Regions from separate parts of the Homo sapiens genome. Here region 2 is linked to region 1. A link means that fine-mapping ties the variant in region 1 to the expression of a gene that starts in the linked region. Tissue or cell type: whole blood. Region 1 holds a variant in brackets; the other region holds the start of a gene. All regions are shown on one strand. Distances are from middle to middle.

Region 1 (5,233 bases):
TGGGAGGCCGAGGTGGGTGGATCACCTGGGGTCAGGAGTTCGAGACCAGCCTGGCCAACATAGTGACATCCCATCTCTATCAAAATATAAAAATTAGCCAGATGTGGTGGTGGGCGGCTGTAATCTCAGCTACTTGGGAAGCTGAGGCAGGAGAATCGCTTGAACCCAGGACGGGGAGGTTGCAGTGAGCCGAGATAGCGCCATTGCATGCCAGCCTGGGCAATGAGCAAAACTCCATCTCAAAAAAAAAGAAAAAAGAAACCCCAGACCTAGGCGAGCCCCTGCATACAGCCATGCCTGAAACCCTTTTACTACAAGAGCTAATGAATTCCCTTTGTAGCTTAAGCCTGTTCAAATTGACATGTAACTGAAGAGCTGTCACGCGGGCTAGATAATAATGCCCCATAGCTTCAAATAAGATAATAAATATGAAAGCTCTGGGCTCCCGTAAGGGACTGGTATTGTTATGACCATTGGCACCCAGAGGGTGAGGCTGGGGTCTCAGCTTTGTCACTTAAAAACCTCGAGTACCTTACTTCACCTCTTAAGCCTCAGTGTTCTTACCTGTGCAATGGGATGCTATTATACTATTTCTCAGTGGTTATGAGAATGAAATAAAATTTAAAAAGTTACTGGCATAGTGCCTGGCATATGATAAGTACTTGATCCAATGTAGTCCTTGTTTAATAACAACAAATGGTAACAGTGATTGTGGCCACAACTACTACTGCTAGTAATAAAAGCGGTAATCACAGTAGTAAGTAATCACAGCGGTAATCACACAGTAAGTAGTAAGGGTGGTAACCACCAAGAGTTGTGGGCCCAGCCTGCGAGCTAGCCAGGCCCCAAGCTGGGAAACCCGGTTTCCTACTCAGCCCTCCCTACTCAGCCCCTAGCAACGTTGCCTTTGACTGAAGTGGCACCGACTCTGTGGCACCTCCTTCTTCCACAGGTGCCATCCTGAGCACTTGATGGGAGGCCAGCTTGTTTACCTTCCAGACCAAGGGACACAGGTGACCTAGGCCAGGAAGGCTGGGCCCTCAGAGGCTCAGGCTCTAAGCCAGCCTCTCCTTCATCACCAGGGGCCCGGTAGGTGACAGCAGGGTGCTGCAGTGCTGTGTGTGCACCTGCCAGACCGTACTCTGGTGACAGCTCCCTGATCTCTCTTTGGGTACCTTAAGCTTTTGGGGGACGGTATTTAGCAATTAAAAATACAGAATGAAAAAAATTAAAATTAAATTTTAATTAAAAAAAATTAGCCAGGCATGGTAGTGCACACCTGTAATTCCAGCTGCTTGGGAGGCTGAAGTGGGAGGATGGCTTGAGCCCAGGAGTTTGAGGCTACGGTGAGCTATGATCATGCCATTGCACTCCCACCTGGGCAACACAGTGACACCCCATCTCTATAAAAATATATATGTATAAAATGCTCAAAAAAAACAACAAATGATTTATTTGTATGTGTCTCTAGTATTGCATGGATGTACATATACTAAAAAAATCAGTTTTTCGGCTGGGGTCGGTGACTCATGCCTGTAATCCCACCACTTTGAGAGGCTGAGGCAGGTGGATCGCCTGAGGCCAGGAGCTTGAGACCAGCCCGGCCAACATGGTGAAACCCCGTCTCTATTAAAAATATGAAAATTAGCTGGGCGTGGTGGCATGCACCTGTAATTCCAGCTACTCGCGAGGCCAAGGCATGAGAATCACTTGAACCCAGGAGGCAGAGGTTACAGTGAGCCAAGATCGTGCCACTGCACTCCAGCCTGGGCAATGACAGTGAGACTCCATCTCAAAAAAAAAAAAAATCAGTTTGTCTATCTGAAATTCAAATTCAACCAAGCAGCCTGATTGTTATCTGGCAACCGTGGGTACTGTGCCCCCACCGCCCTTGGACCATGTGATTCTCCTGGGGGCCAAACTGGCTTCAGGTCTGGGCAGATGAATTCAGGTGTGACCAGTCAGAGCAGCTTATCTAACTGGCCACACTGACTGGGTCAGAGATGGGTACACAACCCAGGCAGGGATCAGTGAGTGTCAGCCTGGGAGCTGGCAGTGGAAGGAGGGGCTTGAGAGCCTTTCCCTTAAACCAGTTTGGGTCTCAAGCCACTATGGATGCCCTTCCGCCATCAGGGCACCTCGGCTGCCCAGTCAAACAAACAACACAGCTGGACTCAGTATTTTCTACTTTTATTTTCTAGAGTAAATCAGGTGCCACTTGGCAGGGTCCCTACACCTGATGCCCTTCCATCTCTCCACCACCCCTGCCCCAGAGGCCAGCCAAGGCCAGGAAGGAGAAAACCACATGGCCCACCCGCCTGTTCCTCTCTGGGGTGGATGGAGACTGGCACTGGGAGGGAAGTGGCCTGCCACCAGGAGAGGGTGTTCCGAGGGGTCTTCAGGACCAGGATCAGGACAGGTAGGGACGAGGGTAGGAACCAGGTGAAGATACAATTTATTCCTGCATCCTGTACCAGCACCGTGATTCTACAGAGCCCTTGGCCAGTAACGGACCAGTTGCCGCTGGCCTCTCTGTTGAAGGACACAAGCTCTGGCCTGGAGAGCTACCCTCCCGACCCTTTGGAGAGGGCACCATACAGTGAGGCCTCGGGCAACAGTCTTGGCTGCTCAGTGAGTTTCAGCCGCCCGGGGTGGGCAGGGGCAGGGTTAGATGGCATCACCCTCACTGTCAGACTCGATGACGTCCAGCGGCTGCAGACGCAGGGAGTCATAGTTGGGGGGCGGGGTGCCTGGGATGGGCAGGGCCTGCTCACTGGGGTAGGGCCCAGTGTTGGGGCTGCGGGGGGCCGTGTCAGGCTGGAAGCCAAAGTTGGTGTGGGCCTCCACCAGCTCGGCCACGGTGGGCGGTGGGCCAGCGTAGCTGGCTTGGGCTCGCCGCTGCCGTAGGCTCTTGGCCAAGGCCACCAGCTTGATGATGGTGATCCACACAAAGTCGATGATGATCTCCCCAAACTCGATGAGGCACAGCACAGAGCCCCCCATCCAGAAGCCAAACTGGCCACCCAGATTCGAGAGCAGCCAGACGATCTGTGGGGAACAGGGA[G/A]CTGGGGTGAGCTCAGGCCACACATTCTTGCCTCTAGCCCAGCCTCACAGCTTCCTGGGAGGTGATTCTTGGGTGGGAACGGGAGGGGGTGACCATCTTGGCCCAGGGGAATAACTTGGGACTGTCTTAGGGATCTTCCTAATTCCTTCATAGGGCTCAGAACCCTTCCCCCACCCTCAGGGTGCAGGGGTCAGGGCAGGGCAGGGCTGGGGTATTGGGAGACTCCTAAACTCACGTTATTGGCTGCTGATTCTTCAATGGTGCGATAGTTAAATTCTTGGAAGTAGATGTTGAGCTTGACAATTCCCTTCCTGCAGGAGGCAGCGAGAAGGGCCGGGACTAATGTATCCCCCTTCCAAACAGACAGACACACACACACGCACATAGACACATGCACACACATGCACGTGCACACACCCACATGTATGCACACACATGTACCCACACACCCGTGCACACATGCACACAGGAAGGCAGCCAGGGATGGCCGCCCCAGCCCTCCTCTGTCCTGAGCTTCTCTCATGCGTGCCCCCGTGAGTGGGGAGGTCCAAACGAGAACTGCAAGTGCAGCCCTTCCCGGCCCTTCTGGGCATCTCTGCCCAGCACCCATCCTATGGCCCCCTTTCTCCATCCCCTGACTACCAGTTCCCTACAGGACACTCTGGCCTGGGACAGCCCCAAAGATCTGCTCTGAGCTCCCCACTTTGTGCCATCAGGGTGGCCTGGGCTATACGGAGTGACTCCGCACAGAGCTCTTCACTGAGCCTTGAGCGCCTTCACTGCACCTGGGACAGAGAAGGGTGGCTGTGTGGGCATCCCCTCCCACCTGATCGTCCTCAGGCTGTGCTGTCTCGTGCCTCCAGGCTTTCCAGCTTTGTCTTCTGCCTGGACATTGGTACCTCTTCTTATCTGAACAGCACTTACTCCTCCTTGGAGAGTTCACTCAAAGCCACCTCCCTACGCAGACCTCCCTTATCTCTCAGGCAGACTGAGGCTCCTTCCCTGCTGTACTCCTAGAGTAGGGGGCTTGTACAGACCCTCCTCTCCTTGAGCCCTTTTTACATATGTTTGCCCCCTAGACTCCTGCTAGCTTGGACTGTGTGTCTTTCTTGTGCTCAACTAGTGTTTGTGTTGAATGGATGGAGAGATCCATGAATAAACGGAGGATGGCTGGGTGCGTGGGTGGGAGAATGGAGAGGTGGATGATGGAGGGATGAATGGGTGGAGGATGGCTGGCTGCGTGGGTGGGAGAATGGAGGATGAATGAGTGGAGGATGGCTGGGTGTGTGGGTGGATGATGGAGGGATGAATGGGTGGAGGATGGCTGGGTGGGAGAATGGAGGATGAATGAGTGGAGGATGGCTGGGCGCGTGGGTGGATGATGGAGGATGAATGGATGGCTGGTTGGATGCACAGTGACAGAGGGAAGCACAGGCTTCTCCTTAGCAGGTGGTAGACTCAGAGTCCCCTTGGCTGCCTTTCCTCTCTCTCACTCCTAGTGCCTCCTCCTCAAGACTTGCTCCTCGGTCTGACCCATGTGAGAATGTGTCTGAGGAGCTGTCCTGTGTCCAAACTCCTGCCCCGAGTTTCTGGACCCCTTCCCTGTCTTCCCCAGCCCCGCCCAGGCTCAGGCTCACCTGCTCAGGGTGATATTGGTGCTTTGGTCCCGCTCCTGAGACAAGACGTGGAAAATCCAGTCCTGGAACCCAAGAAGGTGGTTGCAAAAGTTGCCATCTGCAGCATCCCTCCCAGTCATGGCTCTGTTCCCTGGGGGAGGTAGACCACAGCCCTGTCCCTTCCTGAGGCCCCCGGGGGAATCACAATTTGGATGAGGAGCAGGAGGAAGGTCGTAGTGGAAGCTGTGGCTGCTGTTCTAGGGGAGGAAGGACTCGGGCCTCCAGACTCTTCCTCGGCGGGCCTGGCCACCCTGCCCGGCTCTCTCCCACCTCTGGTCCTCACACTTCCTGCTCCCTCTGCCCGGAATCCTCCCCAGCTCTGCCCATGATGGCTCAGCCTCTGCCTCCAGGTGTCAGCTCCAATGTCACCTTTTCAGAGAGGCCTTCCCTGACCACTCGGTCTAACATGCTTTCCCAGAAGCTGGGCATGGTGGCTCATGCCTGTAATCCCAGCATTTTGGGAGGCTGAGGTGGGAGGATCGCTTAAGGCCAG
Region 2 (5,000 bases), 130 kb before region 1:
GCAGGGGAATCACTTGAACCCAGGAGGCAGAGGTTGCAGTGAACTGAGATTGCACCATTGCACTCCAGCCTGGGCAACAGAGCGAGACTCAAAAAAAAAAAAAAAAAAAAAAAAAAAAGATTTTCTTTAACTCCTTAATGAGGAAACTGGTGAGATGTTCAAACCAGTCCAAAGAATGGACATCATGTATAGATCAGGAATGTTGAAATGGATGTGCAAGTGGGGGCAGAACTGGTTTTTCCACAAGAAGTCTGTGTGTTCCCAGAACAGTATTCATTTGCTTGTGTGTGGACAAGAATCATCACCCATTGCTATTCAGTTATCTACAAGGAAGAATTTGTGCTTCTGTATGGCATACGTACCTATGGTCTAAGAAGAATGTGTGTTCTGAGTTCCAAGCTACAGAATCACAGAGTGGCCAGCCCAGAGGTTCACTCTTTATCTAAGAGGAACATCTGAACCCTTGGCCCCATCCTGTGGAACGCAGGCCATACGGGGGATCAAGGCCCTTTGGGGTTAAATTGAGGTTGCCAGATGGAGGTTGCTAGGGGAAGGGTGCTAGTTGAAAATACTATATAAACTGATGCTCTTTACAAATGGTAGTGGTCCTCCTGTCCAGCCCACTGCCACTAGACCACCCCGTAAGTCCCCTCAGTAAACCTGCCTCATTCAGTGGCTCTGGGTCTCTTCTTCCGCCTTTCAAACATGGTGCCATCCCTACTGAAGTTAATAGGGGTACGGCACAACAGCTTCAATGGAAAATTATGTGTTGTCTAGACAGCACAACCTTCCAGGTTCTAGCCTTTCTTTGTCTTTGAGAAGTCTCATAACTCTGTTAAGTTGATACCAATGCAAAATAATTCTTGCCTATAAATAGGTAAATTCCGCTCACTGGAGGGACAGCTCTCACCCCGGTCGAAAAGCCAGTTTTGCCTCCATTTGCACATTCGTCTTATCTTCCTTTTTTTCCAGATAAATTTGCCCTTCTTTGACTTCACTTTTGGATTGATTATAACATCTGCTTGGTTCCCTCATGTAATTAAATAAAATATTTAACACGTATTCATTTCATAATTATGATAATCATGACATACTTTTTTGGGAAAATTATCTTTTAACAGAATAAGCAAGTAAATAATACATCGATGGTGTACTGTGTGATGCAGAAAATAAAGCAGAGTATTGAGGAATGCAGGACATGTTAGTTTAGAAGTGTTCCAGGAAACCAGGGAGGTGGAGGTTGCAATGAGCCGAGATAGCACCACTGCACTCCAGCCTGGGCGACAGAGCGAGACTCCATCTGAAAAAAAAAAAAAGTGTTCCAGGAAAACCCTTCTGTGAATAAAAATGCAAGCACATAGGCCGGGCGTGGTGGCTCACCCCTGTAATCCCAGCACTTTGGGAGGGCGAAGCGGGCAGATCACGAGGTCAGGAGTTCGAGACCAGCCTGGCCAACATAGTGAACCCTCGTTTCTACTAAAAATACAAAAAAAAAAAAAATAGCTGGGTGTGGTGGCATGCACCTGTAGTCCCAGCTACTCGGGACGCTGAGGCAGGAGAATCGCTTGAACCCAGGAAGTGGAGGTTGCAGTGAGCCGAGATGGCACCCCTGCACTCCAGCCTAGGCGACAGAGTGAGACTCCGTCTCAAAAAAAGAAAAAAAGAAAAATAAAAAATAAATGCAAGCACTTTGGGAAGTCGAGGTAAGAGGATCTTGTAGCCCAGGAGTTCGAGACCACCCGGGCAACATGGTGAAACCCAGTCTCTAACACACACACACACACACACACACACACACACACGGTGAAACCCAGTCTCTAACACCAGGAGTTCGAGACCACCCGGGCAACATGGTGAAACCCAGTCTCTAACACACACACACACACACACACACACACACACACACACACACGGTGAAACCCAGTCTCTAACACACACACACACACACGCCAGGCGTGGTGGTGCCCTCCCCTAGTCCCAGCTCCTCCGGAGACTGAAGCGGGAGGATCGCTTGAGCCTAGGAGGTGGAGGCTGCAGTGAGCCGTGATCGCGCCATTGGACTCCAGCCTGAGTGACAGAGCAAGACCCCGTCTCTTAAAAAATAAAAATGCTAAAAGAATTATTCGTGTTCTTCTGAAAATCAAATTTAACTGGGCGTCTTGTATTTTATCTGGCAACCGTACGGTGAGTGGTCTTAGAAGACCAGCGCTGGGTGGAGGGATCTGGACTAAGAAATGTTCCGGCCGGTCCCGCGTGGAGGGGGGGCCTGGGGTGGGCGTGGCGCCAGCGGCCCCGCCCCGTCACGTGTCCACCGCTCCTGCCGCGCAGTCAGCAGAGGAGAGCGCCAGGACGCTACAGCGGCTGAAGAGGCAGTGGCGCCCGCGGCCGCAGCGTCGGGGCTGGAGCGATGGCGGCGACCGCGGTGGCGGCGGCTGTGGCGGGAACCGAGTCGGCCCAGGGTCCCCCGGGCCCGGCAGCGTCGCTGGAGCTGTGGCTCAGTGAGTAGCCTGGCAGGCCTTCGGCGCAGCCGCTGCGCCGCACGTGAGGCCTCGCTTCCCGCCTCCCGGGGCCTTGCTTCGGGGCGGGCGGCCGCAGGGGAGGCCGGCGGCCGGGTAGGGGGCCTGGGCCCGGCGCGGTGGGGAAGATCGCCCAGGGGTCCCCCGAGAGGAGCCCCAAGCATCCGCCGGGGCAGCGGCCCCCTTCTGAGCTCTGCCCCTCCCCCTCCGCCCACCCCCCAACTTAGCAGCAGCACAGGACCCCGACCCCCACCCCAATGGCTACGTGACCTGCGCTTTCCCCTGCGCCAGGCACTGTGCTCACAGCGGCTTAGTCCTGCTTAATCCTCATTCCCACCCCGAGCTGGCTTCTATTATTAACCCCACTACGGAAGCGGGGACCTTGAGGCTTAAGGAGACGCAGTCGTGCAAGACATGCAGTCTGTTTGGGGCTGAGAAAGATCTCTATCTGGCTACCGCGTCAAAAAGAAATTTTTTACCTTTTGTGTTTACTTTGGCCAGACTTTTTTTTTTAAACACACACACACGTGTGTGTGTGTGTGCGTATATATATATATGTGTGTTTTTTTTTTCCTTTAAGAGACGGGGTCTCATTATGTTACCCTGGTTGGGCTCAAACCCTTTGGCCAGAATTCTTCTGCATGTCTCCTGTAAGCTTCACAGTCATCTTAGGGGTTATTATTATCTCCGTTTTACCAATGAGGGATTGAGGTTCAAAGGGGATAAAGAATATTCCCCTTGTACCCAGCTCTGCTAGGTGCCAGGAACACTGAGATGCATAACACAGGGTCCTTGCTCACCAAAACATTTTTTAGTGGGTACAAGCCGGCAGTCACATCACCTTACTAACGGGATTGGCGAGGAGGAGGAGGGCGTTCGTTTCACCTGTGGTGGTAGGAGTTGGTTTACCTGGGGGTCGTCACAGCCGACCGCATTCCAGGCAGAAGAAACTGCGTGTGCAAAAGCTGGGGACAAGAGAATGTGGAGCACTCCGGGAACAAGTAGGTCAGTCCGCTGGAGTGCAAGCCTAAAGCTCAGGAATCCGGGAAAGGGGCTGCACGGCTAATTGGGGCGAGATCTTCAAGAGCCTTGTGTGCTGCAGAAAGGAGTTTATGTTTTATCCGAGGGCGGGGTTGCTGTTTGGGAGTTTTCAGCCGGAGAATCTGATCAAGGAAGCCTGTTAAAGGCGTCACTTGCAGCCATATGGTGCTAAATTGGGCGGAGAGGGTGAGACTTCAGGCAGGGAGAGCGGCTAAAAAGCTCTTTTGGTGGTGGTTGGGGGCCGCAGGAGGACTAAGGCAGTGGGGAGAGGGAGAAGCAATGAGCAGGCGTAGTCAGCAGCCTCGGTGCCTTGGAATGCAGACAGGGGACAAGGAGAAATCTAGGCTAGATCGCGGGTTTCAGGCTCGAGGAACTGGTGGGTTACAGATGCCTCCCCTGTGAGGAGGAGCTGGTTTAGGCAGAGAAGGTTGAGATGTGGAGTTTGAGGTGCTTGTGGCATAGTCAAAAAAGAGATGCCCTCTAGGCAGCTGGTTGGCACTGGAGAGGGCAAGTGTGGGACGTACGGTTTGGGAGTCTGGTTCATTGGCAGTGAGCTTGCGGGAGAAGCTTGCGTATATTAAGAGCAGAGGTTTGGAAAGAGAGCGTGGGGAGCCCCAGCATTGAAGAGGCAGATGGGAAGAGAAGACTGAAGGCTGAGCAGAAACAGGCAGGGGGAGACCTGCAGGGGCACCCACTGATAGCAAAGGAGGGATGTGGTTGTAACGTAGTTTTGCTCCTTAAAGATGGAGGAGAATGAGGAAGGAGAAGAGAGAACTTTGAATTTGGTAACCAACCAGTTATTTAATGAGACATCCTTGAGTTAAACAGTAGAGACAGAAGGTAGTAGTTTTAGGAGGCAATGGAGAACAGAAGGCTTAGACTGGAGTTGCAAAAATTAGAAAAAAAGGCTGTTCATGCCTGTAATCGCAGCACTTTGGGAGGCTGAGGTGGGCCAATCCTTTGAGGCCAGGAGTTTAAGACCAGCCTGGCCAACATGGTGAAACCCCGTCTCTACTAAAATACAAAAAATAGCCATGTGTGGTGGCGCACACCTGTAATTCCAGCTACTTGGGAGGCCGAGGTGGGAGGATCACTTGAACCCTTGGGGCAGAGGTTGTGGAGGTGGAGCCAAGATTGCACCGCTGCACTCCAGCCTAGGTGACAAGGCGAGATTCTGTCTCAAAAAAAAAAAAAAAAAGTAGCCGGAGTAAGAGAAAGTAGCTGCCTCAGGTGGAGGAGATAAAAGGAGTGCCTGGAACTGAGGCTGCCCAAGGACACAGTTCTTCAACTCCAGCTTTTTTTGAAACAGAGTCTCACTGTGTCACCCAGGCTGGAGTGCAGCGGCATGATCTCAGCTCACTGCAGCTTACCCCTCTCCTGGGCTCAAGCATTTTTCCCACATCAGCCTCCCCAGTTCTAGCTTTTTTTAAATGTATTTTTATT

What was found. PIP is the estimated chance that this variant, and not a neighbour inherited with it, causes the effect.
Region 2: GGA2 starts here. The variant in region 1 is fine-mapped to the expression of GGA2 in whole blood (TOPMed, PIP above 0.99).

Annotation. Positions count from the first base shown.
Region 1 is chr16:23,378,236-23,383,468 of GRCh38, reverse strand. It overlaps SCNN1B (sodium channel epithelial 1 subunit beta), which reads right to left. Exons shown (of 13, transcript NM_000336.3): 11 at 4,702-4,763; 12 at 3,300-3,375; 13 at 2,175-3,048. The coding sequence ends at 2,668. Among named protein-coding and RNA genes, the nearest start is that of COG7, 72 kb to the left of the region's middle. RefSeq lists an enhancer at 2,910-3,411. The variant G/A (reference allele first, on the strand shown) is at 3,065.
Region 2 is chr16:23,507,819-23,512,818 of GRCh38, reverse strand. GGA2 (golgi associated, gamma adaptin ear containing, ARF binding protein 2) reads left to right here and starts at 2,325. Exons shown (of 17, transcript NM_015044.4): 1 at 2,325-2,498. The coding sequence starts at 2,408. RefSeq lists silencers at 2,049-2,098, 2,169-2,398, 2,469-2,638.